Homo sapiens: one gene and its partners. The protein of the gene in region 2 purifies or fractionates together with the protein of the main gene of each other region. This does not show direct contact. Each region holds a gene or a part of one and is shown on either strand. Other genes may lie near its edges. The genes, in order: RAB10, RILPL1 and RAB12.

The links.
Region 1: the proteins of RILPL1 (region 2) and RAB10 purify together in Homo sapiens (co-immunoprecipitation; 3 studies listed by BioGRID and IntAct, with this or other methods). This does not show direct contact.
Region 3: the proteins of RILPL1 (region 2) and RAB12 purify together in Homo sapiens (co-immunoprecipitation; 2 studies listed by IntAct). This does not show direct contact.

What each region holds. Positions count from the first base shown.
Region 1 is NC_000002.12:26,026,491-26,037,083, forward strand, and holds the start of RAB10 (ras-related protein Rab-10), read left to right. Parts: upstream 1-7,593; 5' UTR 7,594-8,118; coding exon 8,119-8,245; intron 8,246-10,593. UniProt on the Homo sapiens protein: The small GTPases Rab are key regulators of intracellular membrane trafficking, from the formation of transport vesicles to their fusion with membranes.
Region 2 is NC_000012.12:123,480,655-123,490,447, forward strand, and holds part of RILPL1 (RILP-like protein 1), read right to left. Parts: intron 5,152-9,793; coding exon 4,979-5,151; intron 3,619-4,978; coding exon 3,526-3,618; intron 1-3,525. UniProt on the Homo sapiens protein: Plays a role in the regulation of cell shape and polarity. Plays a role in cellular protein transport, including protein transport away from primary cilia.
Region 3 is NC_000018.10:8,617,801-8,627,593, reverse strand, and holds part of RAB12 (ras-related protein Rab-12), read right to left. Parts: intron 3,611-9,793; exon of another isoform or gene 3,581-3,610; coding exon of another isoform or gene 3,451-3,580; intron 2,657-3,450; coding exon 2,596-2,656; intron 1,794-2,595; exon of another isoform or gene 1,600-1,793; intron 772-1,599; exon of another isoform or gene 1-771. UniProt on the Homo sapiens protein: The small GTPases Rab are key regulators of intracellular membrane trafficking, from the formation of transport vesicles to their fusion with membranes.

The DNA of each region.
Region 1 (10,593 bases), on a different chromosome or scaffold from region 2:
CCTCGAACTCCTGACCTTGTGATCTGCCTACCTCGGCCTCCCAAAGTGCTGGGATTACAGGCGTGAGCCACCGCACCCGGCTTTGTTTTTTTGTTTTTTTTTTTTTTTTGAGACAGGGTCTTGCTCTGTTGCCCAATCTGGAGTACAGTGGCGGGATCTTGGCTCACTGCAACCTTGACTTTCCAGGCTCAAGCAATCCTCCTGCTTCAGCCCCCTAAGTAGCTGGGACTACAGGCATGTGCCACCATGCCTGGTAGGGCAATTATTTTCTAACAAGAGGAGGCCTAAGTCAAGATATGCAGGCAGAGCAGAATACTGACGGGCTGCCAGCCACTAGGCAATCAGTACTTAGCATCAGGAAAGTCTAACCAAGATCTATCCTCATGAAGTCCCTGCAGGAAGACTGTGGGTGTGAACACAGGAAATAAGCAGTAGTAAATACACAAAGTCCTGGAGACTGGAGGGGAAGGTTTTATAGCAAGGTGATGACGTAGCAGTCGGCTGGCCCTTCAAGGGAAGACTCGATTCTCTCTCTTTTTTTTTTTTTTTTTTTTTTTGAGACGGAGTTTCCCTCTTTTTGCCCAGGCTGGAATGCAATGGTACGATCTCGGTTCACTGCAACCTCCGCCTCCTGGGTTCAGGCAATTCTCCTGCCTCAGCCTCTCGAGTAGCTGGGATTACAGGCATGCACCACCATGCCTGGCTAATTTTGTATTTTTTAGTAGAGACAGGGTTTCTCCATGTTGGCCAGGCTAGGCTGGAACTCCCGACCTCAGGTGATCCGCCTGCCTCAGCCTGGCCAAGTGCTGGGATTACAGGCGTGAGCCATCACGCCCGGCCTGGAAGACTCAATTCTTATGAAGAACACGGAGAGCAAGTTGGGGAGGGATAAAAGAGTAAGAAATCAGGTATAGAGACTGAATATGCATGGGAACAGTGGTAAAGATGATCCTGCCTCAATATCTTTTGAGGCAGGAGTTTTTTATAAGGTAGAGGCAGGTCCTAAAAGCTTAAGTTGAAGACTAGAACCATGAACTGGTCAACTATGCTTTTTCTAGAAAAATATAGAGATAATACCTTAATTGATAGTATAAACATATAAATATACCTCTTTTTTCTTGGCTTTGCAAATATTTGGACTACTACTTTCTCTTTTCCTCCCTCCCTCCTTTATTTATTTATTTACTTATTTTATTTATTTATTTTTTTGAGACAGAGTTTCGCTCTGTTGCCCAGGCTGGATTGCAGTGGCACGATCTCGGCTCACTGCAAGCTCCGCCTCCTGGGTTCACGCCATTCTCCTGCCTCAGCCTCCCGAGTAGCTGGGACTACAGACGCCCACCACCATGCCCGGCTAATTTTTTGTATTTTTAGTAGAGACGGGGTTTCACTGTGTTAGCCAGGATGGTGTTGATCTCCTGACCTCGTGATCCACTTGCCTCGGCCTCCCAAAGTGCTGCGATTACAGGTGTTAGCCACCGCGCCCAGCCTCCCATTTATTTATTTATTTTTTATTTTTATTTTTATTTATTTATTTATTTATTTTGGTTTTGAACCTTTAATGAGAAAAAAATATATAATATCGAGCTCAAGAACACTGTGTGTTTGGTGTCATTGGGTCAAGGGTTGGGGATACACACGGCAGAATTCGGAAACGGTATATGTCAACAAAAATACACACAATCATAACAAGAAAAACTGGCGCCTGGCACAATCAACTCTCAGTTTCCTCTTCACTCAGCAGCATGTTGGGGATCCCGCGGCTGATGGGGAACATACGTCCAGATTCCGGGCACTGCAGGGTGCCCTCTATCACTTCCACCTCCAGCAGCAGGTGGTGCATGGTCCTCAGAAACTCTTCATTCTCCTCATATCCCTCAACTGGCCCTTTAGGCATCTGGATCAGGCGCAAGCTATCGGCCGCCTCCAGGAACGCCGACCACTCCACCTTAGGTATCATATGTACCACGTATGATACGTGCCACGTATGATGCCACATAAATTGGGGGTTGAACTCCACAGGGCAGATACGGACCTCGGTGGCCTGGAGGCACAGGGGGAAGCCACGGGACCCCATCCCCCGCACATGCGAGCTCAGCAGATTGTGGGTGAGCAGTTTCATGTCGCCACACAACTATTTTTTATTTTTTGAGACGGAGTCTCACTCTGTCGCCCAGGCTGGAGTGCAGTGGCGTGATCTCAGCTCACTACAACCTCTGCTTCCCGGGTTCAAGCGATTCTGCTGCCTCAGCCTCCTGAGTAGCTGGGACTACAGGCGCACGCTACCAGGCCCAGCTAATTTTTATATTTTTAGTAGAGACAGGGTTTCACCATGTTGACAAGGATGGTCTCGATCTCTTGACCTCGTGATCCACCCGCCTCAGCCTCCCAAAGTGCTGGGATTACAGGCGTGAGCTACTGTGCCCAGTCTATTTATTTTTTTGACAGTGTGTCTCACTCTGTTGCTCACGCTGTAGTGCAGTGGCAGGATCATGGCTCACTGCAGCCTCAGCCTCCCAGGCTCAAGCAATCCTCCCACCTCAGCCTTCCGGAGTAGCTGGGATCACAGGAACTCATCACCATGTCAGGCTAATTTTTTCTTACTTTTTTTAGAGATGGGGCTTCACCATGTTACCTAGGCTGGTCTGGAACTCCTAGACTCAAGCTCTCTGCCTACCTTGGCCTCCTAAAGTGCTGGGATTACAGGCATGAGCCTCTGCGCCTGGCCTGGACTACATTTTTTGTTGTTGTTGTTGTTGAGATGGAGTCTCGTTCTGTCACTCAGCCTGGAGTGCAGTGGTGCGATCTCGACTCACTGCAACCTCGGCCTCCCAGGCTCAAGCGAGTCTCCTGCCTCAGCCTCCCAAGTAGCTGGAATTATAGGTACCTGCCACCATGCCTGGCTAATTTTTGTGTTTTTAGTAGAGATGGGGTTTCACCAAGTTGGCCAGGCTGGTCTCAAACTCCTAATCAAGTGATCCACCCGCCTGGGCCTCTCAAAGTGCTGGGATTACAGGCATGAGCCACTGCACCTGGCCTCTGGACTACATTCTTTATAGAGCAATTTTGAAAAAAGCATAACCCCTAAACTAGCAGTAGATTGGCATTTTTTTCACTGTTTCCACTTTTATGAAATATTTCTTCATAACTCTAGGTTTATCCTTTAGGCCTGTGTAGATCCCCATTTTACTCTTCTTTTCTAGAGTCAGAGATCTTCCATACCTTGATCACTTCTGCTTGCTTCACTGGCAGATATAGCTTGATGCTTAGGCCTCACTCCAGCAAAACCTTTAATTAACTTTAGAGAATCCAAATGCTAAGTACTGGCCGAGCCTCTCAATCCTCGCAATTCTCACCTTGAGGTAATACGGTGTCCTGTGGAGGTTTTCTTCTCTTTTCCCTTGCCCGTATAGTCCAGGCTCTGCACTAACAGTGTGACCTCTGGGAAGGCCCTAACTTCTCTGAATCTCAGACTCCTCATCTGTGAGTTACGTGCAGGGGTCAAATTATGATTTAAAATATATGGTGGGGCATGTTGGCTCGCACTTGTAATCCCAGCATTTTGGGAGGCCAAGGCTGGCAGATTGTTTGAGCCTAGGAGTTCAAGACCAGCCTGGGCAACATGGCAAAACCCCATCTCCACAAAAAATATAAAAATTAGCTGGGCGTAATGGTGCACATCCATAGTCTCAGGGACTTGGGAGGCTGAAGTGGGAGGACTGCTTGAGCCCAAGAGGCTGAGGCTGCAGTGAGCCATGATCGTTCCACTGCACTGCAGCTTGGGCGACAGAGTGAGAACCTGCCTCAAAAAAAAAAAAAAAAAAAAAAAAGGTATCCTGGCGGGGCACAGTGGCTCACGCCTATAATTCCAGCACTTTGGGAGGCCAAGGAGGGCAAATCACTTGAGGTTAGGAGTTCAAGACTATCCTGGTCAGGGATGGTGGCTCACGCCCTAGTTAAAGGCTTATGCTTTTTTCAGAATTGCTCTATAAAGAATGTAGTCCAGGGGCTGGGCGCGGTGGCTCATTCCTGTAATCCCAGCACTTTGGGAGGCTGAGGAGGGCGGATCACTTGAGGTCAGGGGTCTAAGAGCAGCCTTGCCAACATGATGAAACCCCATCTCTACTAAAAATACAAAACTCAAGACAGGCGTGGTGGCGGTGCCTGTAATACCAGCTACTTGGGAGGCTGAGGCAGGAGTTTCACTTGAACCAGGAGGCAGAAGTTGCAGTGAACCAAGACTGTGCCACTGCACTCCAGTCTGGGTGAAAGAGTGAGATTCTATCTCAAAAAAAAAAAAGTCTATGATCGATAATTTGTTAATAAATGTAATAATTCCTAAAGTTTCAGAATATGAGTTCATGGGGAAAGGTTTCTAAGTGATAAAATTGTTGGTTACAGGATAAAAAATAAAGTGAAAAAATCTTTTTTACTTATATTTGTACATATTAATGGAAGTACATGTGATTTTTGATACATGCATACTGTGTGTAATGATCAAATCATTACAAATGAGGTTACCCATCACCTCAAACATTTATCATTTGTGTTGGGTTTTTCAGATTTTTCAACTGTCCATTATCCCCAAAATTTACGTAGTGGTATTACTCTCCAAATTAGGCTTTTTTTTTTGAGATGGAGTCTTGCTCTGTCACCAGGCTAGAATGCAGTGGTGCAATCTTGGCTCACTGCAACCTCCGACTCCCTGGTTTAAGCAATTCTCCTGCCTCAGCCTCCTGAGTAGCTGGGACTACAGGTGCATGCCACCATGCTCAGCTAATTAATGTATTTTTAGTAGAGATGGGGTCTCACCATGTTGGCCAAGATGGTCTCGATCTCTTGACCTCAAACGATCCACCCACCTCGGTCTCCCAAAGTGCTGGGATTACAGGTGAGAGCCACTAGGCCCGGCCCAAATTAGGCCTTCTACAGGAAAAAGTCTTGGCTGGGCCTGTTGGCTCACACCTGTAATCCCAGCACCTTAGGAAGCCAAGGTGGGAGGATCGCTTGAGGCCAGGAGTTTGAGGTTGCAGTGAGGCCTCCACACTCCAGTGTGGGAAACAAGCAAGACCCTGTCTTAAAAACAAACAAAACCTTTAACACTTCATTTTTTCACAGATGGAGTCCACTCTGTTGTCCAGGCTGGTCTCAATCTCCTGGGGTCAAGCAATCCTCCCTCCTCAGCCTCCTGAATAGCTGGGACTACAGGTTCAGTCACTGTGCCCAGCTTAAAAACTTTCAAGACTTTTAAAATACTTTGTAACATTGAGGCTTGAGTTAATCTAACTTATTTTGAAAGGAATAATCAAGGTAACAAGATTTTCCTTCTGACGCTGAATTGACGACACACCTGTGCTGCACTGACCATCACTCACTTTGTGATTTGCATAGCTAGTCTATTTTAGAATTGTTATTATCATAAGGCATTCCCGACTACAGTCAGAATGATTCATAGAGGATAAGAAGGTTTAAGTGAGGCCAGGCGCAGTGGCTCTCACCTGTAATCCCAGCACTTTGGGAGGCTGAGGCGGATGGATCATCTGAGGTCAGGAGTTCAAGACCAGCCTGGCCAACATGGTGAAACCCCGTCTCTACTAAAAATATAAAAATTAGCCAGGCTTGGTGGCACACGCCTGTAATCCCAGCTACTAAGGAGGCTGAGGCAGGAGAATCACTTGAACCCGGAAGGGCTGCAGTAAGCCGAGATTGTGCCACTGCACTCCAGCATGGGTGGTAGAGTGAGAGTCTGTCTCAAAAAAAAAAAATGTTTAAGTGACAAGACTAGGAGCAATTGGAGAAAACAACTGAAGAGAAAGCTGTATTAGTGAAGACAAGTATCTTCGGTAAGGACGCTTTAGGGGTGGTTGAGAAGAAAGGAAAAATGTAAGACAGAAATATAAGACAGAAATGTAAGACGGAATTGCCTGAAAGTCTAACTTTAATTACATATCAAATACACATTTTGGTGATTTGGCGATCTTGGGGTGGTGTGTGTGAAAATGTAGTTTTTACTTCTCTATCCCTGTTTCTTGTTTTCCACATACTTCAGCGTTTTCCACTTTATCAGGTTGAACCAGCTCACCAGGTTCAACTCCTGTGCCATCACACCTAGGTGTGCTTTGAGGGATGGATGTCCCTGAGAATGGAAGGTCAGCAGCATGCATACTGCAACTACAGAAGGGTAGGAGAGAAAAAGGGTGGCGTAAACAGGACTGATGGGGAGAGAGAACAGAAGGTAAAGCAAATGCAAAGAAAATGCGAGGGCCCGGGCGCGGGGGCTAACGCCTGTAATCCCAGCACTTTGGGAGGCCGGGGCGGGCGGGTCACCTGTCAGGTGTTCGACACCAGCCTGACTAACAGGGTGAAACCCCGTCTCTACTAAATACAAAAAATTAGCCGGGCGTGGTAGCACATGCCTGTAATCCCAGCTACTTGGGAGGCCGAGGCAGGAGAATCACTTGAACCCAGGTGGTGGAGGTTGCAGTGAGCAGAGATTGTGCCATTGCACTCTAGCCTGGGCAACAAGAGCGAAACTCCATCTCAAAAAAAAAAAAAAAAAGAAAGAAAAGAAAAAAAGAAAAAGAAAATGCGAGGAAACGAGCGAAACTCCATCTCAAAAAAAAAAAAAAAAAAAAGAAAGAAAAGAAAAAAAGAAAAAGAAAATGCGAGGAAGCAGGCTGTGTCGGACTGGGAGTAGGCTTGACCACCTTTCAATTTTCAACCCAGTGGTACGACGCTGGCGGCAGGCAGAGGCCCCACCTCCTCTGCAGAGCGCTCTCGGGTTCTCCCGGATTCCTGAAGGACGGCAAAGGCCTGAAGCAGGTTCTCTGAGCACCGCACAGAACCCTCCACTTCGCAGGGAGGTTCTTCCTGCGCCCAGGTGTTCCTCAACCTTCCTCTCCTCGCCCAGGAAGAGGTTGTGAGGATTACCTCATCCCAACCCGAGCGGCGTGGCCAGCTTTTCCATCTCAAACTCTTGCTCTTGAAGTCAATCCGGATGGAGCGCTCATGTTTCCCCGTCAGGGCTGGCCCTGGAGAGGGGGCACGCCGGGAGGCGTCTCGTTCTAGCAAAGAGGCTATTAAATGACCCAGGGCGCGGCTTTTTCTCGCGTTTACGAGCTCCACCTACACGGGAACACATGGCCACCCAAGCCCGTCGCTGCGCCAAGACCTCCAGCTCAACACACCCGACAAGCGCTGTGCAGAGAAACCGCAGCGCAGTCCAGCGGGAGACCCCGGGAGGGGAAGGAGGTGCTGGGCTCTGTAAGGGTGTCCCGGGGAGCGGGGAGCGGGAGGCGGGAGGCGGGGGTCGGAGGGGGGGCGCTGCGCCTGCGCAGTCGCTAGGTAGCGTCTCCCCCGGGGCGTGCTCGTAACGCCGCGCACCCTATCAGGCGGCCACAGGGAGCGCGCCCGCGGCCTCGCCCTTTCTCGCCCCTCCCTTCTCCCCTCTGGGTCCAGCCTCAGACTGAGGCTTGGAGACAGGAGCATTCCACTCGCCACTTCGGCGCGCCCCCATGCCCTCTTGTGCGCGTGCGCAGAGGCGGACCGCAAGGCTAGGGCGTGAGGGAAGGGCGGGCGTACGCCCTTGCGTGCGTCTCAGGCAGCGCGCACGCCGGCGTGAGAGGGCACGGGGAAAAGGTGGCTCTGGCCGGGGTGGCTCGGTTTCCTGGGGCTATGTAACTGAGCTCGTCGACTTAGGGGTCCTTCTTCGCTGCCCTCGCCGCGTGCTAGCAGGGAGTTTCCGCTCGGGAGAGAGACTGTCCTCACGCCCGCTGCGCCTCCTCGACGGCAGAGCAGGCTTGCTCGCCCGTGGGAGCGTCCCGGCCGAGAAGCCCTGAGGGGGGAGGGGAGGCCATTTTGTCCCGACCGACTCCCCGGAACCGGGCGGACGGGCTGGGAGAGGCTGCGGAGCCGCGGTCGCCGCCCTCGGAGGCACTGGACGCCGCCACTGTCGGGGCTTCCTCAAAGCTGTTCGTAGGTCGCCCGCGCCGTCTCGAGCCTTTTTCCCACGCTTCCCCGGTCCTCCGGCCTGAGAACGCCCGAGTGAGGAGTTGGCCGTAGTGAGAGGGACCGATCCCTTGGGGCCGCCGGCGGCGAGAGCCCGAGCCGCTCCTCCCAATGGCGAAGAAGACGTACGACCTGCTTTTCAAGCTGCTCCTGATCGGGGATTCCGGAGTGGGGAAGACCTGCGTCCTTTTTCGTTTTTCGGATGATGCCTTCAATACTACCTTTATTTCCACCATAGGTAAGACCTGTGGGAGGACGGTGTACGGTCTCGGTAGCTGCATACCGTTTATTTTACTCCAGACATCTTGCTTCCCGTAATATACGCCTTTGTTTCAGTGATTCCGATTCCAAACGACACATCCAAGTTACTGTTTGAATCGGCATCGAGCTTACTGGGGCGGGGTCTTCCCATGATTTCCATCCGGTCTTTTGCTTTCGAGTCTCCCACTATGCTCAGTGCCTTCTGTTACAAAATATGCATCATTTAACCATGTTCCAGAACCTTATTTCTTCAGGCGACTGGACTGGCTTTTTCCACATTTGCGTGGAATTAGTAGATGTGTGATATTTTTAAGGTATTTATTTCAGTGGTTGCGATTGAAGCAGTACTAGCTATTTGGGAAAGGCCTGAATTTATACTTTGGGGCAAAGAAAAGATTCCATATGGTGATAACTTAGAGTAAACTTGAGGGTTTCTGAGAAGAATAATTAAGGTAAATTAGAAGGGAAGAGTGAGTTGCCCTCATTCACTAATCCATTGATGTGTCAAACAATCGGAGGCTCTTCGCGCTTGGGGTGGGACTCTGGCATATTTGCCTCAGTGCTTTTCGAGACATCAACAGAAGCAGTAATCTGAGGGAGATGATCAGTTTCTGTCCTCAAACCCAACGGAGTGAAGTCAAGCTCTCTCTTCTATTTTATTTGACTCTAGTATTTACAGGAAAGTATTTTGCCAGTCATAGCCCTATGGACTTATAATGCACTTTCACCATGTTTCAGAATTACTTAGTGTGGAAGTAAGAGCTAAAGAGTGACCTTTTTAATCGAATTTCCCGTTTAGGAAAGGAAAAGGGAAGGCTCTAGGAAAGTCCCTTTTGAATCTGGTTAGAAAATTTAAGTGGCATTGACGCTAATTGTGCTATATTAATTGTGAAACCCATCCGCTCCGCAATAAATTTCTTAAAAGACACATGGCTCTCAGCATTGTGGCGGTGCAGTTGAACCCATTTTTAAATGTACTTTTATATTGAGAGGCTTTTAAAAAGCAACGGCAGTCGTCTTTGAACTCTGGGAATTGTCAAAATTAAGCTGATTTGAAACAGTTTGTATAGCGTAACTGAAATATTTGGTTTGGGTTTTCTTTTGTGACAAATACCTGCTTCATTCTCACAAAAGAAATTATACTGAAATTAAATTGGACAAGTGATTTTTTAAATAGATTTTTATTTTGCTTACCTTTTTTGGGAGGCAAATTATCATAATCCTTATTTCCAGAGTATCATACTGTTTTCTTGGTCTGTCATAAATTTCATGAAACTTAGAGCTTGTTCTCTAACTTGTGGGTTAGAGAATACTAGCACTTAGCGCTAGCACTTCCCTAGCACTGTTTGCTTTTAACACTCCACTTTTAGCTGTAGCTGGCTAGGGTTAGGTGATCAGATGGGTCAGCAAATATTTATTGAGCACCTAATGCTGGGCACTGTTTTTAGGCACTGGGAATAAATGATGAACACAACAGACCCCTTGAGGAGCATTCCGGTGAGATAATCATAATAGTGTGGAAGATGCTACAATAGTAAGCACAGGGAGGAAGAGTGGCTAGTCTAAATCGTGAGGAGTTTGAGTAGGCTTACGTGGAGATGATACCTAAAATGAAGTCTGGGCCGGGCGCGGTGGCTCATGCCTGTAATCCCAGCACTTTGGGAGGCCTTGGCGGGCGGATCACAAGGTCGGGAGGTCAAGACCAGTTTGGCCAATATGGTGAAACCCCGTTTTTACTAAAAATACAAAAATTAGCTGGGCGTAGTGGCAGGCACCTGTAGTCCCAGCTACTCAGGAGGCTGAGGCAGGAGAATCACTTGAACCTGGGAGGCGGAGGTTGCAGTGAGCTGAGATTGTGCCACTGCACTCCAGCCTGGGCAACAAAGCCAGACTCCGTCTCAAAATAATAATAAATAAATGAAGTCTGAAGGACTAATAGGAATAGAGTCAGAGGGGTAGGATAGGGCCTTTCTGGAAAAGGGAGCATAGAACAAATGTATAGTAAGGTTGAGGATTTAATTCATGTGGTCAACTTTATTTATTTATTTTGAGACTGAGCCTCACTCTGTGGCCCAGGCTGGAGTGCAGTGGCGTGATCTCGGCCCACTGCAACCTCCGCCTCAGGGGTTCAAGCAATTCTGCCTCAGCTTCCTGAGTAGCAGAGACTACAGGTGCCCACCACCACACCTGGCTAATTTCTGTATTTTTAGTAGAGATGGTTTCACCATGTTGGTCAGGCTGGTCTTGACCTCAAGCAATCCACCGCCCCAGCCTCCCAAAGTGCTGGGATTACAGGCGTGAGCCACCACGCCTGGCTGTGTGGTC
Region 2 (9,793 bases):
AGTGGGGCTGGCGAGTGAGTTGGAGTTTAAGCAAAGCCAGTCCCATTTCCTACCAAGCACTGCATGAGAAACCCTTCCTGGGCACTAAGTACTGCAGAGAATCAAGACTGAAGGGCTTCCTCCTCCCAACGTGAGGCTACCGTGGGCACCCCGTATTTCTGTCTATCTAGCACTCTGATATTGCTTGGGGACCCATCCCTTCCCCTACTTTCAGGCCACTTGAACTGGATGGAGGTAAAAGTGCTCTGAGCGTCAAGGGTGAGGAGTCACAGACCCGGACGATCAATGTGCTGTCCTGTGATTGGGTTAGGGATAGTCATGTGACCCAGCTGGAGCCAATGGGACTCATTTCTGTGACTGATGGAAATCTTGGGAACAGAGACTCTGCACTGGAGTTTCAGACAGAAGAAAATGAAACCTGGCCGGGCGCGGTGGCTCACGCCTGTAATCCCAGCACTTTGGGAGGCCGAGGCGGGTGGATCACCTGAAGTCAGGAGTTAGAGACCAGCCTGGCCAACATGGTGAAACTCCGTCTCTACTAAAATTACAAAACTTAGCCGGGCGTAGAGGCAGATGCCTCTAATCCCAGCTACTCGGGAGGCTGAGACAGGAGAGAACTGCTTGAACCCGGGAGGTGGAGGCTGCAGTGAGCTGAGATTGTGCCACTGCACTCCAGCCTCGGCAATGGAGTGAGACTCCCTCTCAAAAAAAAAAAAAAAGAAAGAAAGAAAATGAAACCTGAGCCAAGGGCTGCCATGCTGCCATCCTCAGGCTGGACTGGACACCCAAGAATGGAGCCCACAGAGGAAAACCAAGCCAGGGGTGGAGGAAACAAGGCCTGGATCCAGCTGAGCCCCACGCTGTGGCAAGTTGGAACTTTTAGTTCCTTAGCCAAATTTGTTTTCTTTTTTTTTTTTTTGAGGCGGAGTTTCACTCTTGTTGCCCAAACTGGAGTGCAATGGCACGATCTTGGCTCACTGCAACCTCTGTCTCCCAGGTTCAAGCGATTCTCCTGCCTCAGCCTCCCAAGTAGCTGGGATTACAGGTGTGTGCCACCACGCCCGGCTGATTTTTGTATTTTTAGTGGAGATGGGGTTTCTCCGTATTGGTCAGGCTGGTCTCAAACTCCCGACCTCAGCTGATCCACTCGCCTCGGCCTCCCAAAGTGCTGGGATTACAAGCCTGAGCCACCGAGCCCAGCCCCAAATTTGTTTTGTTTTCTTTTTTCTTTTTTGAGATGGAGTCTCGCTCTGTCGCTCAGAGGCTGGAGTACAATGGCACAATCTCAGCTCACTGCAACCTCTGCCTCCCGGGTTCAAGCAATTTTCCTGCCTCAGCCTCCTGAGTAGCTGGGACTACAGGCATGTGACCACCACGCCCAGCTAATTTTTGTAGTTTTAGTAGAAATGAGGTTTCACCATGTTGGCCAGGTTGGTCTTGAACTTCTGACCTCATGATCCACCCACCTAGACCTCCCAAAGTGCTGGGATTACAGGCGTGAGCTACTGCGCCTGGCCTCCAAATTCGTTTTCTTAGGTTACTTTGAGTTGAGTTTCAATTGCAAATGGAAGGTTACTACTGAATCCATGATCTAAATGGTGTTGGGATCTAGAGGAAGCTTTTCTGGTGCCATGCGTCTTCCCTAGGAAATGTTTATCTCTAACCAGAACTGGGGCCACACTCCCTCCCCAGTGCATCAGGGACCTGGGGCCAAACTCCTAAGCAGCCTGAATGAAGCTGGAAGGGAGTCGTGCACCAGCCTGTACTCTCTAGCAATATCCGGCTAATTTTAAATTTTTTTGTAGAGACAGAGTCTCACTACGTGGCCCAGGTTGGTCTCAAACTCCTGGCCTCAAGTGATCCTTCTGCCTTGGCCTTTCAGAGTGCTGGGATTACAGATGTGAGCTGCCATGCCCAGCAAAGGGCATCATTTTCTTTCTTTCTTTTTTATCCCTCTCTCTCTCTCTTTTTTTTTTTTTTTCGAGACAGGGTTTCGCTCTGTCACCCTAGCTGGAGTGCAGTGGTACAATCTTGGCTCACTGAAGCCTCAACCTCCTGGGCTCAAACAATCCTCCCACTTCAGCCTCCCAAGTAGCTGGGACCATACCCAGCTAATTTTTGTATTTTTTGTAGAGAGGTGGTTTCACCATGTTGCCCAGGTTGGTCTTGAACTCCTGAGCTCAAGTGATCCTCCCACCTCTGCCTCCCAAAATGCTGAGATTACAGGTGTGAGCTACCGCACCCAGCCCCAAGGGCACCATTTTCTAAGAGGAGAGGGCCCAGCAGTGACAAACCTGCACGGCTCTGCATTGTCTACTCACAGGGCAAGAACTAACCAAGAATTTCCAAACATAACTGGATTTTAAAGGTTGGGGTATATGGGTAACACTCCACTTCCTCTCCCTACACGATCCGACTGGCTTTCCAACCCACACGCCCTGTTTTCACAAAGTTTCTTGTGGGTTTTGGAGGAAAGAACTGAAACCTCTTCTGTACTAAGCCTTGGATAGAACTGGAAGGCAGGCCCAGAGCCTGGAAGACCGTCTCAGGGGAGAGAATGCAGCTCCAACACTGCAAGCACAAGGCTGTCTTGCAGAGAGCTCACAGTGTGGGCTCTGGGGCCAGGCTACCTGGGTTTGAGCCCTGGTTCTGCCTCTTATTAGCTGAATGACCCTAGGCAGGTGCCTCTGTTTCCTTAACTATAAAATGGGAATGATGATGCTTCCACCCCACAACACCATGCTGAGGACTCAATGAGATATTCTGTGGGAACAGGACCCAGCACGTGTTAGCTTCTTAGTAGATACTGTCTAACAAAACCAGAGGTGTTAACCCTTTATCTGAAGAGTCTTAGAGGTCCATGAACCTCCTGAAATTGTTCACAAATTTTACAGATTTCTCTGGGGGAAATTTCAGGAGGTTTTATCACAACCTCAAAGGAATCTGTTGATGCCAAGAACCACTGAAGTAGCTTAAAGTCTAGTTGAGGGCAGGGACTAGGTCACTCTTTTTTGCGGGGTTCTCCTGCAGCAACCAAGGCCTGACTCTGCATGCGTTATGCAGTAACCCCTGCTTAATGGACAGAGGGCTACATGGATGAGTCATCAGAGAACTGCATAGATGGGGTGGACCCAGGGCCACCTGACATCTCAGAGCTGAGGTCTCAAGCTTCAGATGCACAACCCACCCCTACCTCGCTACCCTTATTTCCTGTCCTCAAAGGCCCAGAGATGCACCCCACCCCCATGAAACACACTCCAGCAAGCTCCTGAGTATCAGCCACTGGCCCAAGCCTCTCCCCTCTCGCCTCCCGCACTCCCCAAACCTCTCTGCCCAGAGACCCCCAGGAGGGACTCAGCATTCAGGAAGGGAGATGAACTCAAAGTCGGGGGCCAGGCCAGACGTCTCAGCAGGATGTGGTTAGTCACAAGCCTGGCCCTGGGAGCAGGTGCCAAGGAGGAAAAGTCAAAGGACACGTGAACCGCCAGGTCAGCCGAGCGCAGAAGCTGGCAGCGCATCACTTACAGTCGCTTGATGCCCGACTCCGGCTGGGGGGACGTCCTCGGGTGGGCGATGGGTGGGGGTTGGGGTATTCGGTTTTCCTCTTCCATTTCTTCACTGGAAGGAGATGAGAGGCGTGAGATAAAAGAGTCAAAAGTTCCTTGAGAACTGGAACATTCCAGAAGAGAAGTGTCTGATGGTCTGAGAGGGTGCATGCTTTTTAGGGGACCCGCATCTGTATTTCCAGTTTATTCTGAAGAGTCCAGCCAAATAGAACCACTCCCCGTTTCCTGTCCTTACACAGGCTTCCCTGTCGCTACACCTCTGTGGTTTCTTCTACCCAGAATATACCTGTCACTCCTCAACATCTCCCATATCTAAATACTACCCTATCCTTTCAGGAAGGCCCAGTTCAAATGCTGCTTCCTCCAGGAGGCCTTCCGATTTCCACCCCATCCACAAACTCGAAGAAGTGATCTCTCCCACTCTCCCATCTTTTTTTTTTTTTTTTTTTTTTGAGACAGGGTCTCATTCTGTTGCCCAGGCTCGAGTGCAGTGGTACAAACATACATAGCTCACTGCAGCCTTGACCTTGGGCTGAAATGATCCTCCTGCTTCAGCCTCCCAAGTGGCTGGGACTACAGGGTGAGCCACCATACCTGGCTAATTTTTAAAAATTTTTGTGTAGAGATGGGGGTCCCACTATGTTGCCCAGGCTGGTTTCGAGTCCTGGGTTCAAGTGATCCGCCTGCCTCGGCCTCGCAAAGTGCTGGGATGACAGGCATGAGCCACCGCGCCCGGCCTCTCCCATCTTTGAACATCCAGTATACAGTCAGTAAACCTTTCAATAAAAATGTGTGGTATTATATTTTTTATGCATCTCTTATCTTCCCCACTGGAGCAGGGACCACCTCTGGTGCATGGGTCCTTCCTTCCAGCTTTCTATTCAACAGATATTTGTTGTGCACCTACTGTGTGCCAAGCTCCATTCTAAGTGCTGGGAACTTAGCCATGGACAAGATAAATAAGACTTCTGGTCTCATGTTGCTTGTGGTCTCATGTGGAAACCTACAATAAAGCAAGCATGAGAGTGAACAGGATAATGTAGGAGGTGAAAAGGGCCACATAGACCATTAACACCGGGGCCGGGTTTCATTCATTCATTCATTTAAAAAAAGAGATGAGGTCTCGCTTTGTTGCCCAGGCTAGTCTCGAATGCCTGGGATCAAGCAATCTTCCCGCCTCGGCCTCCCAAAATACTGGAATTAAAGGTGTGAGCTCTGGTGCCCGGCCTGGGCCCAAGAGTTTCAGAAAGGGGTTGTGAGCTTGTATGTAAGTTCTTTAGGCCAGAGAGGGTACCCAAAAAAAACACTGATGAAATGCTTGTCTTCCAGGGGGTAAGAAGGTAACTGTACAGAAACTCTGGCTAACCTCAGTAAGGAGCCAGCTCGGGCCATCCAGCCCCAGGGACACTTGCCTCTTATAGTAAGCCAGCTCCTCCTGCAGCAAGAACACCTTGGACTTGAGCTCGTTCCTCTCGTGCAGCACGTCCCGCAGCTCCTGCAGGGTGAACCGGGGGCGGTTGGGGTCCTTGAGATCCATGGCCACCTTCTCTGCGTCGGAGATGCTCTCCTCTCCCACCGGCTCCGTCTGGAGGAGGCAGAGATGCTGCTAATGAATTCTTGGCAGCCACTGCCAGCACCCACTCTCTATCCTGAAGGAGCCCAAATTCTCCCCCTCCCGGGGTGCCAGCAGCCTGTGGAGGGTGCTATTTTCAGCACTCGCAGGCGGCCCTTGCTCACGTTCTGTACAGTTTCCCTCTGGAGGTGGAAGCCAGCAGCCACCTGTTCATTGTTCGCCTTCCCAATAGCCGAACCCACGGACCCCGCACCTCCCCACCCGACTTGGGGTTTCATTACAAACATGACAAGGCATCCAGGGAGGAGCTGTCACACCTCCCCTGCCCCCACCCTCGTACATCTGCTGCTTCCCCCTTTCCAGGCCTCCTTTCATCTCCTTACTAAGACCATTGCTAATTTGGCCAGAGTGGCTGGAATCTCAGCCTACACACAATTCTCCATTCCTTTTTCATTTGACAGTAAGTCATATCCATTTTCCCTGTTGTTATGGGCCTTCTGGTTAGGTCCTCTCCTCCCCAGTGGCTTTGAGTATCTGGAGTTCAGTGGAAGCCCGGCGGGGGTGCACACTCGGCCATTTCTCTGTGATGCGGGTGACCAACAGATCCCAGCATCATGCTAAGTCACCTGCCCCAGGTCACACCCACACCCATCCTCTCACCTTCTTGCATAGCGAGGGAGCCTTTTTAGAAAAATGTGGTAAAATATACATCATCTAAAATTTACCATTTGAACCTTTTAAAAGTGAACAATTTGGAAGTGACATTTAGTAAACTCACATGTCACACAACCACCACCTCTGTCCAGTTCTAGAACATTTTCTTCATACCAAAAGGAAAACCCATACTTATTATTTTATTTTTTTCTGAGATGGAGTTTCACTGTCACCCAGGCTGGAGTGCAATGGCATGATCTCAGCTCACTGCAACCTCCACTCCTTGGCTTCAAGCGATTCTTGTGCCTCAGCCTCCCGAGTAGCTGGGATTACAGGTGTGTACCGCCACACCCGGCAATTTTTTTTTTTTTGAGACGGAATCTCTCTGTCACCCAGGCTGGAGTGCAGTGGCACGATCTCAGCTCACTGCAAACTCCACCACCCGGGTTCAAGCCATCCTCCTGCCTCAGCCTCCTGAGTACCTGGGATTACAGGCGCCTGCCATTATGCCTGGCTAATTTTTGTATTTTTAGTAGAGACAGGGTTTCACCATGTTGGCCAGACTGGTCTTGAACTCCTGACCTCAAGTGATCCACCCGCCTTTGCCTCCCAAAGTGCTGGGATTACAGGTGTGAGCCACCGCACCCGGCTGAAAACCTGTACTTATTAAGCAGTCACTCTCTACTTCCCTATCCTGAGCCCTTGGCAAATGCCAATGTAGTTTCTGTCTATGGACTGCCTACCATGGACATTTCCCAGAAACAGAATCATACATTAAGTGGCCTTTTGTGCCTGGCTCCTTTCACTTAGCACGGTGTTTCCAAGGTTCATCCACGTTGCAGCACACACCAGCACTTCACTCTTTTTTTTTTTGAGATGGCATCTCACTCTGTCACCCAGGCTGGAGTGCAATGGCACGATCTCAGCTCACTTCAACCTCTGCCTCCTGGGTTCAAGCGATTCTTCCGCCTCAGCCTCCCGAGTAGCTAGCTGGGAATACAGGCACCCGCCATCATGCCCGGGCTAAGTTTTGTATTTTTGTAGAGACGGGGTTTTACCATGTTGGTCAGGCTGGTCTTGAACTCCCGTCCTCAGGTGATCCACCCACCTCAGCCTCCCAAAGTGCTGGGATTACAGGGGTGGGCCACCCCGCCAGCTCACTTCACTCCTTTTGATGGCTGAGCCATATTCCACTGTACAGATGTACCACAGTGTGTTTATCCATTCTTCAGCTGACGGACATCAGAGTGGTTTCCACTCTTTGGCTAATGTGAATAGCAATGCTAAGAACTGTATTAGTGTGGACACTTGTTTTCAGTTCTTCTGGTTGTATACCTGGGAGTGGGATTGCTGGGTCATGGGCTAATTCTGTGTTTAACTTGTTGAGGAGTTGTCAAACCGTTTCCCACGGCAGCTGCTCTATTTTACATTCCCACCAGCAATGCACAAGGGTTCCAATTTCTCTATATTCTTGCCAACAGTTATTTTCCTTTTTTTTCTTAATCACAAGGAAGCTTTTGCAAGTCAGCCAGTCAATCTACAGGTAGCCCACACTCTCAAAGGAATGGAGTGTCCCCAACACTCCTGAGCCACCAATGTCCCGTGACCAACCAGGAGTAGACAGAGGTCAGGACAGCAGTGAAAAAGCTCCAGAACAGGGAAAGGGAGAGGAAACAGACGTCCTTCCCAACCTCAAGAAAAACTCCATAGGCCCGGCACCGTGGCTCACACTCCTAATTCTAGCACTTTGGGAGGCTGAGGCAGGAGGATCACTAGAACCCAGGAGATTCAGACCAGCCCGGGCAACATAGCAAGACCTCATGTCTACAAAAAAGAAAAGAAAATTAACTGGGCATGGTGGCTTGCCCCTGTAGTCCCAGTTACATAGGAGGCTGAGGCATGAGGATCACCTGAGCCCAGGAAGTGGAGGCTGCAGTGAGCCAAGACTGTGCCACTGCACTTAAGGCAGTGTCTCCAACAAAGTGAGACCCTGTCTCAAAAAAAAAAAAAAAAAAAGAAGAAGAAGAAGAAAAACCCCATAGCAGCACAGGGAGAAGGGGACTAACTCCAGCCTGAATGTGCCCTGGACAGGAGGCTGAGGGATTCCAGAAGGCAGAGCCGAGAGGCTTCACACCCTGTGGGAGGCTGGAACCGGCTGTTCTGGGAAAGGACGTGTGAAAGGAGACAACACCCACTGCTGGGGCACGTCAGGTGACAGCAGAGCCACACACAGCAGGCCCAGGTTGGGGGAGCAAGCTGACCCTGCCCAGCCTTGGGGTCGGAGTCAGCACGGGGCAGCAGAGGAGGGGCCTCCATGCAGTGGGAAACTGAAATCTGACCCCGGCCGCCCTCGCAAGCTGTCTGGGCAGCTGAGGGGCTTCTTCCCACCCAAGAACAAGGGGAGGAAATGTTGGAGGATTTAATTTCCAAAGAAAGTATTCTAGGCGTCTGCTGATGCCACAATTTAGGTGGGCTGTGTCCTCAGAGGACATCTTCAATGTCCGATCTCCTCTGCAGCGCCTCCAGGGATGCTCCGGAACCACCCGGCAGCCACACACTCCATGTCTCCACCCAAGACCACATACAACAGGTGACGGATATGCGGCCGGCATTCAATCGCGCCAGTTCTCCTCTTTCCCTGGCCCAGCTTCACCAAGGAGCAACCCTGGATGTCTAGTTATCCAACATTTACTGAGAGCTAACTTTGTGCCTTGCTGGCCGTGGAGCTCAGCCCTGGGAACAGAGTCAGACAGATGGGGCTGAAGAGAAGATACACATAAATAGAAGCTTAAGGCCAGGTGTGGTGGCTCACACCTGTAATCCCAGTACTTTGGGAGGCTGAGGCAGGCGGATCACCTGAAGTCAGGAGTTCGAGACCAGCCTGGACAACATGGTGAAACGCTATCTCTACTGAAAATACAAAAATTAGCTGGGCGGCCAGGCACAGTGGCTCACGCCTGTAATCTCAGCACTTTGGGAAGCTGAGGTGGGTGGATCACGAAGTCAGGAGATCGAGACCAGCCTGGCCAACATGGTGAAACCCCGTCTCTACTAAAAAACACAAAAATTAGTCAGGCATGGTGGTGGGCACCTGTAATCCCAGCTGCTCGGGAGGCTGAGGCAGGAGAATTGCTTGAACCCAGGAGATGGAGGTTACAGTGAGCTGACACGGTGCCACTGTACTCCAGCCTGGGCGACAGAGCGACAGAGTAAGACTCCATCTTAAAAAAAAAAAAAATAGTGCACAGACACAAGATCTAACTGGAGAGAATCAGGGAAGATGTTAATCAGATGTGGTCTCTATGCATGGGGTCTTGACGAATATGTAGGAGTTCACCAGGAACTCTGGGCATTAGTAGTATAGATCAGAGGTTGCAAACTAAGCTCTTAGACCATCCCAGTGCTGCTGGCCCACATTTTGTTTGGCCTTCACTGTGTTCTAAAACTCTGTTGAATTAGCTGCGAACTCTTTAAGATTAGGAGATTTCATATTGAAGTTTGCATTTTGGGCTTCCTGTGGAAAGTGCGCTGGAAGATCAGGCCCCACTGGCAACGCTGGGCTGTTTCCGAGCAGCAGCTGCTCCCTTTTCCATCCCCTTTCTCCTTCTCCTGCCTGGACCCTGCAGGCAGCAGTGGCCCCTGCTATGGACCCGAACCCCAAGCTCCCTCCAGTCCCTTCCTCCTCAGACAGCTCGGGTCCTGCCTTTCATAGCAGGTCAGGGCCTTGCCTCTCCTGTGTCTCTGGGAGGGACCATCTGACAGCCGTCCCCACACCCTGGGGAAAGAGCAAAGCCCTTCAAAGGAACTCCCAAACCCCCACCTCTCGAGAGGCCTCTGGGCAAAGCCACCCGCCCCTATGTCTGGGCTTTCATCTCCCCATCTAGCCCTTGATAACCCAGAAATATTTCCAAGGGCCCTTCCCACCCAGGTACCTGGGGATTTCTGTGAACACACACTTTCAAAGCCACAGGAATTTTCTGCTCACCCCTATTGGGTTTTA
Region 3 (9,793 bases), on a different chromosome or scaffold from region 2:
TTATTTTAGCTACTTACATAAAGTTCTAACATTCATGTAGAAATACTTTAAAGTACAGAGAAGAGAAAAATGGTCCTTTTTCTGACCACAGGTAATCAACAAACTGAAATATGTGGCAATGACATAAAACGTGACGTAAAAATGTAACAGACACCTGCAGCTTTTGGTACTTTTAGCTTTTAGGAATCTATAGTAAATAATGCACTTCTTCCAACAAGATCCTCCTATGAAAACCGAATGGCAATGCTTTCATGCCAGTCTAGAAAATCGGAGCAGAGCTATCTATTATTAGCATAGCACAATCCACTGCGCCTCCTTGAGGGACCGTTTCCAGCTACACAGGCGCCTTCTATGCCCTCAATGGATGAGAGTGAAACGACGACAACACGCCCACAACAAAGCAGGTTACACCAGCAGCAGCACAAGGGCTGTGCCTCACTCCTAAAGAAGCCACGCATTACTTTAAAACAGTAATACAAATTACAATCATGATTCTAACACTTCCTTTTTACCTGCTGCATAGCAATAATGAAGGAAAAGGTTTTCATCTTTTAAATAAAATATTTCAGAAGATAAAAATCTTATTTTGAGTATTATGTGATCAACAAAATGGCTGGCCTGTAGTAGATATATGAGTCACTGTTCAAAACCTTCCTGCAGGAAAAGAGTCACTGGAATATTCCATGTAGAAAACTTGCAATCAACCATTCCGTAAGTCCAATCCATTTCATTCTTCCTCCCTTAGTTACGCTCTTTGCCCATGCTGTACAGCTGCACAGATTTAGAGAATGAAAAAGTAGTAAAGAGTCAAGGGAGAATCAGGAGAGGGAGAGGGGTCATTTGGAGAATGCTTTCATATACAAGAGAAAAATGGTTTCTGAGTGCCCGCTGCTCTTCGTGGAGCCACAGTATCTCACTTTCTCCCCGAGGGGGATTCCATCAGGTAGGGCCCTCTTATCTCAGAGTCAAGGACATTGTAGTCAGATTCCAGGAGTGTACAATGTCACCAGCATAGACTTAGTGGGCAGAGCTCCAGGGAGGCACCAGGACATTTGGACATACTTTATAAATCATTTGGACATACTTTATAAAGAATACTGCCGCCAAAGATGAAGATGGAAGTATTAATGCATTAATTAAGACATGTGCCACAGTCATCAGGCATGGCTGTCACCAAGGCAGGCGTCACACATTCTAATAATGTTTACATCACTTTTGTGGGGCAATATTCTCATCAGAAAGTACCTCACACAGGTACTAGGAACAGAGAGAGGCATATCCCAAATCCTTGTGAAGATGGTCTTTACCTTATAGAGCTTATAATTAGAAACAGCAGCTTGTGTGCCAAACACTTTGTTGCCATTTCCAGCGTTTAAAAGCTGGGCAGCAATGCACAAAAAGTCTGCGGGACTAGCACAGGAAGAAATATCTATTTGTTGTTTATTCAAGTATTTAGACAAGACCTAATGTTTCATAATCAAGCCAAAAATGAAAATATGCAGACCAAATGCACAACAGAAAAGAAAACGAACAAAAACCCAAATCAAAAAATCTTAGAAGTGTGTTATACAGTGAAGGGTGACCAAATGAAGATATTACCTCAGACACCTCCAGAAGGCAGGCACTGCGGCTTGGCTGCAGCTGCGGCCCAGACAGGGACACGGATGAAGAATGAAGACATGGCACTAACATTCAAGCATTAGGTGACCGATGATGCCACAGATGAAGCAGCAATTAACGCAGATGAAAGCAAACACACACATGGTGGACAAACAATCAGAGCTGAGGGTGACCTGCCAAGAGGAGTTAGTAAGCTGAGTACACCGCAGCTGTAGCATTCAAAACAAAACGGCATTCTCAGAGCACCTCAATGGGGCTACTTTTAAGCCACCGCCAGACCACCAGACCAGATCTTATCCCTTCTTCCACAGACAGGTCGCTAGCACCTGCGGGCTGTTAACAGGTTAATAGCTAACAGAAAGCTCTTAGTGCTGAGTGCAGTTATAACACAGCTGGTTGAGTCTCTCATTCCAATTGTGATTTGAGAAAGGGGCCTGGATTCATTTCTAGTAGGCATTAGTGGGGGCTCACATCCCGTGGAATCAGCAGTACAGCCGGAAGGAGTATGCCCACCCGCAGTAATAGTCACATTGTGCCACCAAGAAGCTCTGGAACTGTCTGCAGGGGACCTGCCTTCAGATTGTGCAAATCTGGTTATGAACATATTGGGCTTTCTTTGAATACTATCATACAAAATAAAGACATGAAGACAAACATTTGAGCAATCATTTTAGTGGAGACAGTTTTGATATCACGTAAATAATTTGAAAATAGAGGCAAAAAGGTTCCAAACTAGCTACCATTAAAGTAACATTCTTCTGTCCACAACTGCTCCCCATGTGCAAGTGGCATATAACATAACAGCCTTATCTAAATTCTCTCTCTTGATGGAAACACTGTCCATTTAATTTTAAAATGAGCAAAAGAGGAGAAAGTAGGAGAGGCAAATCAGCTCAAACAGTTCATTTTATTAGACAAGTACATGGACTGTTAAACACACACAGCACATTACTGGGTGCACACTCTCCCACTTACCAGATCTGTAATCTAATTTTCTTTCCTCTTAGCTCTACAGTTTTGATTTTGAAGTCAACACCTGTAAATAAAACAAATAAATGTGAAGCAAAAACAACAAAGATGCAATTTGTCATACAAAATAATCCTATTTGTGTATTTTGTTATCATTATCAGAAAAAAAGAAAACCCCACGAAACCTGACATCACTTAATTCCAAGGAAAAGCAGTATCTGCACCAGTGTCTATAACCTCCCATCTCTCACGCTTCAGTCCACACTGGGAAGGTCAGCCCATGTTATGTCTTATCCTGAGTGATCGGTCTAGTATTTGCTGTTCATAACACAACTTATAACTACCACAGTTCAGCATAGAAACCAGTTTAAAATTACATTTAATAACTACATCAACAAATAAGTGGCTTTAAAAGGATGTTTTCTCAGGGAAAATTCTTATATGGAACACTGGAAACTTAATCAAACTTAATCAACTTTAGTCAAATAGCCTTAGTCTGAATTTAGAAATTATTGTACTAAAAATTTCAGTACTCATGAAAATTTTAGGTAAATATAAACATAACATTATATGATCAACAGTGAGAAGATTTTAAAATTTACTCTTACACAAATTAACATACCCAACTTTAATTTTTATTCATTTTAATATTACTAAGCAAACCATCATGTATATTTCCTTTTCAATTTAGCCTGTAAAGCTTCAGATATATTTTTAAAACCAAGTTTTCATTTGTGTATGCTACCTTATATGCCTTCCAGTTATACAAAATGTAAATATTTCACAACAATATTTTATTACACAATTTTCATAACTAAGGGAAACAAAAGGGATGCTGGCTGAATTTAGAATTAGAGGCACCTTCCCTACAGGAACGACTTCCTGACAGCTTCCTTGGGACCCAGGGTGTAGACGATCCCAGCTCCCCGGGCCAGCAGGTGCCCATGTTTGTGAGTGGTATGGTGGCTGCAGAGGGCAAGGCCCTGGCCATGCCCCTGACTGCCCGTCTCTGGGCACCAATGAGGTGCTGCAGTCAGATGAGGCTCTTGAGGGGAAGTGGAAGACATGTGACCGATTTTTATAATTAGTAACACTGTGGACACCAATGCCACACAAAAGGCATGTTTACAGCCCTGGGGCAGGGTGTGGCCAGGGAGGCAGCCCTCCTGCCCTAGGAGAGAAGTTGCATGAATATAAAATGTCACAAGAAAACAAAGCTAGAGAGCACTACTCCATGTCAATTCTTAACCTCTCACATAACACATAATTTCAGATGTCCCTGAAGGAAAGCTACTTAATTCAATTTCACTTTCAGTTCTGGAAATGATTTGCTTTCCAAAGTCAAAGGAAGCTCAGACACTGCCTTGACCCAGGAAGCAGGTTCTGCATGATGGAGAACTTGAAGACAGTGGCTTAACACTCAGCTGCAAGGAAACTGCAATTTCAAGTGACACTACACAAGACGCACAAAATAGCGCAGATATTTGCTATCTGGTTTAAAGCAGCACAGTTTAATGACAAAACACTGTCTTCATATTAATGTAGAGTTAGGATTTCACTGCTGCCATGCTACTCTGTGATGGAATTTACTAATCAAATGCATAATCTGTGATGACTACTATTCTATTGTTGCGGGAAGTCAGGGACCCCAAACGGAGGGACCAGCTGAAGCCATGGCAGAAGAACGTGGATTGTGAAGATTTCATGGACATTTATTAGTTCCCCAAATTAATACTTTTATAATTTCTTATGCCTGTCTTTACTGCAATCTCTAAACATAAATTGTGAAGATTCCATCGACACTTATCACTTCCCCAATCAATACCCTTGTGATTTCCTATGCCTGTCTTTACTTTAATCTCTTAATCCTGTCATCTTGTAAGCCGAGGAGGATGTATGTTGCCTCAGGACCATGTGATAATTGTGTTAACTGCACAAATTGTAGAGCATGTGTGTTTAAACAACATGAAATCTGGGCACCTTGAAAAAGAACAGGATAACAGCAATGTTCAGGGAACAAGAGAGATCACCTTAAACTCTGACAGCTGGTGAGCCGGGCGGAACAGAGCCATATTTCTCCTCTTTCAAAAGCAAATGGGAGAAATATCGCTGAATTCTTTTTCTCAGCAAGGAACATCCCTGGGAAAGAGAATACTCGCCTGGGGGTAGGTCTACGGGGTGGCGGGGGGCCCTGGGCGTGGCCGTCTTCTATGGTCAAGGCTGTAGGGGTGGAATAGACCCCAGTCTCCCGTAGTGCTCCCAGGCTTATTAGGAAGAGGAAATTCCCACCTAATAAATTTGGGTCAGACCGGTTGCTCTCAAAACCCTGTCTCCTGATAAGATGTTATCAATGACAATGGTGCCTGAAACTTCATTAGCAATTTTAATTTCGCCCTGGTCCTGTGATCTTGCCCTGCCTCCACTTGCCTTGTGATAGTCTATTACCTTGTGAAGTATTTGATGTCTGTGACCCACACCTGTTCACACACTCCCTCCCCTTTTGAAAATCCCTAATAAAAACTTGCTGGTTTTGTGGCTTGTGGGGCATCACGGAACCTACCGACATGTGACGTCTCCCCTGGATGCCCAGCTTTAAAATTTCTCTCTTTTGTACTCTGTCCCTTTATTTCTCAAACCGGCCGACGCTTAGGGAAAATAGAAAAGAACCTACGTGACTAACGGGGCAGGTTCCCCAATATTCTATTTTACTTTTGTTTCCAATTTCTTCAAGTAAGTTAGTTTTTAAAATGTAATTAAAGGAGCTGTAACTTTTGTAAACCTTGTGGCAGTGGCTGCGACTTTATTGAAAATAACTGGCAGATGATATTTCTTTTGAGCTCTGCTTCAAATTGACTAAGAGTCCCTGAAACAGCTAGAGCAGATAATCTTTGTTTTGACTACAGTTTTCTCTGCTAACAATGGAGTCTGAATATGTCAGACTGCCTTTCCCAACCAACTTGAACAACTTACCGAACTCCAGCAGTCCTACACTAGGACTATTTTGTAATCACAACATTTAATGAATAAAAATAAAAGGCTAGGACATTAATATTCAAAATCAGGAAATAAGTGGTAACATTATCACTATGTAATTATAAACACATTATTAGTTCTAATAGGAAAACAAAGCAAAGATTACCCGACAGTAAATAGGGCTAAGAACCTGTTTTAGCATTGAGTACTCAGACAAAAAGAAGGGAACAGACACTGGGGCCTACCTGAGGGTGATGGGTAGGAGGAAGGAGAGGACTGAAAAACTACCTATCAGGTCCTATGCTCACTGCCTGGGTGACAAAACCATCTGTACACCAAACCCCCATGACACGCAATTCACCCATGTAACAAACCTGCACATGTACCCCCTGACCCTAAAATAAAAGCTGGAAAGGAAAAAAACAAAAGAAAAAAAGAATCTGTTTAGCCAAAATGAAGACTATCTTATAGTGAGTAGATGAATGACAATTAACAACACAACAGAAAAATACCCAGTGGCCAGATCTACGGTTCCATGAGTAAAACCAGTTCCTTAAAACAGTCCTCGCTCTTAAACAAAATATCCTATACCTATACCACATCTAACAGACATTAAGTAGCCTGCAATGACTGGAAACTTAATCCAATTTTTGGCTTAGAAACATATACCTCTATCAAAGTACATGACTAAACATTTCTAAAAACTTTCTTATATTAAAAGTCAAAAATATCCCTTAATGTTGTCTATTTTTAATACTGGGATGTCATAGAAGTGATAATGATCCTCAATAAAAGGAAAAAAGTCATGAATAACCTCAAATATCTGGCAGATGATTTAGGAAAAGTCAACAGAGTTCCTGTTACAGAAGAGGAAATGTTTACAAACAACCAAGGGACAAAGAGGGTGGCGACTTCACTACTGTCTACAACCCTGTTGAAAACCGGTTTCCTACAGGTTATCTTGACTAAGGGAGGAAGCAACGAGCCCCCACCACTGTTGATGGGGACAGTCCCTGCCTTTGAAAACCTCAGTCATACTGACCTAAATTAACACACCATGCACTTGGCAAAGCATCTGTCTTTGCTGTTCTCTCTTCTTAGAGAAACTCCTTGTCTGCCCAGAACCCTCTGAAGCCCTAGATTTCCCATCTGACCTCTTCTGACTGCACCCACCTTTACCCTTGTCTTTATCTATGTTCCAGTTCTTGGCCCTGAACTCTCTTCTAGCCCATATCACATCGTTCCTTCTTTGCTGGCCTCCCCGACAGGCTACGTGCCTGCCCTCCGAGGATGTAGTCATCTTCAGCCCCCTAAAGTCTAGGACACTGCCTGGCACACAACAGCAACTCAATAAATTTGATGGCTGGAAACTGCTCCCTCTTCTCCATCAAATGCTGTATATGTAAGAAGAAATGCAAATTATTTTTGGGAAAAAATAGGGAAATTCAGGACTGATTAGTTAAAAAAAAAAAGGCATCTGAGTAGCAGGTGTGGAATGGAAGCAGTGAACGCAGGGGTGCCCAGGACACAGGGGAAATATGAGTGTGTGCAGCAACACAACCTCTCATTTCTCCTACAGTTCCTCACAGGATGGGGCAGACATCCTTGCTCACAGCCTCTCCCTACACACACTAATCTCAGAGGATTACGGTAACAGTTTCTCCATTCAGTCCCTTAGATACAGAACTGGTCTACCAGGTGAATTAGTCTGGTGAGAGGAGCTTGCTTTTCTTTAGGCTTACCAGTTTTGTGGAAGTCTTTCTAAAAGTATTTTAACAATGCTTTCTAAAAGCACGCAGGCTACAGAGATACAGTATTATCAAAGGTCTTAGACTGCTCTGTTTAAGTCAGTCTTTTTTTTTTTTTGAAGCAAAAAAAAAAAAAAAAAAAAAGAAGAAGAAAAAAAAAAGAAGGCTTTGTCACCCAGGCTGGAGTGCAGTGGCAGGATCCTATATAGCTCACTGCAGCCTCCAACTCCTGGGTGATCCTCCCACCTCAGCCTCCCGAGTACCTGAGTCTACAGAAGCACACCACTGTCACTAACTGATTTTGGTTTTTGTAGAGATAGCATCTCACTATGTTGCCCAGGCTGGTCTCAAACTCAAGCGATCCTCCTACCTCAGCCTCTCCAAGTGCTGGGTTTATAGGCATGAGCAACTGTGCCGGTGTCTTATTCTTGACCTTAATTTCCTTTAGTACTAATGACAGTGGACATCTGTCAAATACTCCATGTCTAATACCCAACATATCCAAGCCTCACAGCAGCCCAGTGACGGGGAAACTATTACCCCCATTTTATAAAGGAAGACAACATGATGAGCAGAGAGAGGACAGGGTAATTTGCCTACAGTCATACCACATGACAGAGAAGCAGCAGAACCAAGACTCAAATTTACACCACTGCCCACAATGAAAGGTTATTATAATAAAAGTCAGATGGGTGAAAAGAGAGAAAAGCGTGAGATGTTCTGAAGTGGCTCATAGCTCCCACAGCCAAGCTGTTAAGACAAGGCCTGACTCTGCGCTCTGCCTTCTTGCTGGCTGTCTTTCACATGTCTAGCAACAGCGGGAGGAATCCCTGGACTTAGTGCTTGTAAGATTTCTATGTTCCCCTTAAAGCGAAACATTTGCACACTACTGTTTCTTTTTGCTGGGCCATAAGAAGTTACAAAAGTGAAAATGGCAAAAACACACGGAAACTTCTTTCTTTACACTCCTTTCCAGTAAAAAGCCTAACCACCACTGTGGTCCACATCTAGGACTACGGCCAAGCGGACTGTGCCCTCTTCTTCCATGCCCAGGTCACTTCTCCTCGTTCCACCAAAGATCTGGAGTTTGGACCAGACCATAGATTTTACTTAATACTTTCAAGAAGTTGAAGAATTTCCATAGACTTGGAAGTAAGTCTCAATACAAACAGTAGTTGTCACTGCCAATTTATAATAATGACCTTAAGTTTTATATAGTGGCTGTTCTTCCAAGGATGTATCTTACATAATGTTAAATTGGATATAATATTCTACTAAGGGATTGGATTGTAAGCATTTTCAGTGAGTTGTGAGAAAATAAATTAAGGAACATGTTAAGGTTACAGAGAGAGGCAAATCTAGCATTAAAATCAAGTCATGTGGGCATAAGGCCAGTCTTCTGCCCAAACTCTACCACCTACCGGGGAAGAGTTCAAAATGAATTCTCGTCCCATATAAGGAAAAGAGAATGTGGCTGAGCACGGTGGCTCACACCTGTAATCCCAGCACTTTGGGAGGCCAAGGCGGGTGGATCACGAGATCAGGAGATCAAGACCATTCTGGCTAACACGGTGAAACCTCGTCTCTACCAAAAACACAAAAAATTAGCCAGGTGTGGTGGTGGTGGGTGCCTGTGGTCCCAGCTGCTCGGGAGGCTGAGGCAGGAGAACGGCGTGAACCCGGGAGGCGGAGCTTGCAGTGAGCCAATATCGCGCCACTGTACTCCAGCCTGGGGGACAGAGCAAGGCTCTGTCTCAAAGAAAAAAAAAAAAGAGGAAAAGGGGATGCAAACTCACTGCTAGTAGACCTGTCTTGTGACATCCTACTATTTAATATTATCTGGCTTTTCCTATCTAACCTGTGTGGTAAGGATTTAAATAGAAACTAAGTACTATAACTATAAAATATTTTGATCAACTCAGAAGCAGGTACTATTAAAATCCTAATGTTACTATGCGTCATTAAAAAAATGCTTATCCAGGCCTGAGGATGTCAAATTGCATCCAGGTACAAGAAGACCTGTCCTCGCTTGCACTCCAGGGTTGGCACGCTCCCACCCAGCAAATAAAGCCCACCCTGTACACAGAAGCACAAGGAGACAGCCTTGCACTTGACTGGAACAAACAATGACACCACGGACTGCATCAGGGAGGGGAGGACAGAGGGACAGTTGGAGGTCCTGGGCCTCCAAGGAGAGGCGTGGCTGGAGCCCAGCAGAGTGAGTGGACAGTTCCTCTCATGGAAGTGTACACACGTATGAGAATTCCACAGAAAGGTGTATGTTCTCTTCACAAATGAAAAGATTAAGAACTTTTGTGGTGTTTGCTATATTTCAGATAATATTCTAAGGGCCTTATCTACATTAACTTATTGCAGTGTATATTCATTAACAATATTATGAGGTATATATTACTGTCTATATTTTATAGATGAAAAAACAGAAGTCAGGGAAGCTGGTAGACTGCCTAAGGTAACCAAGCTGG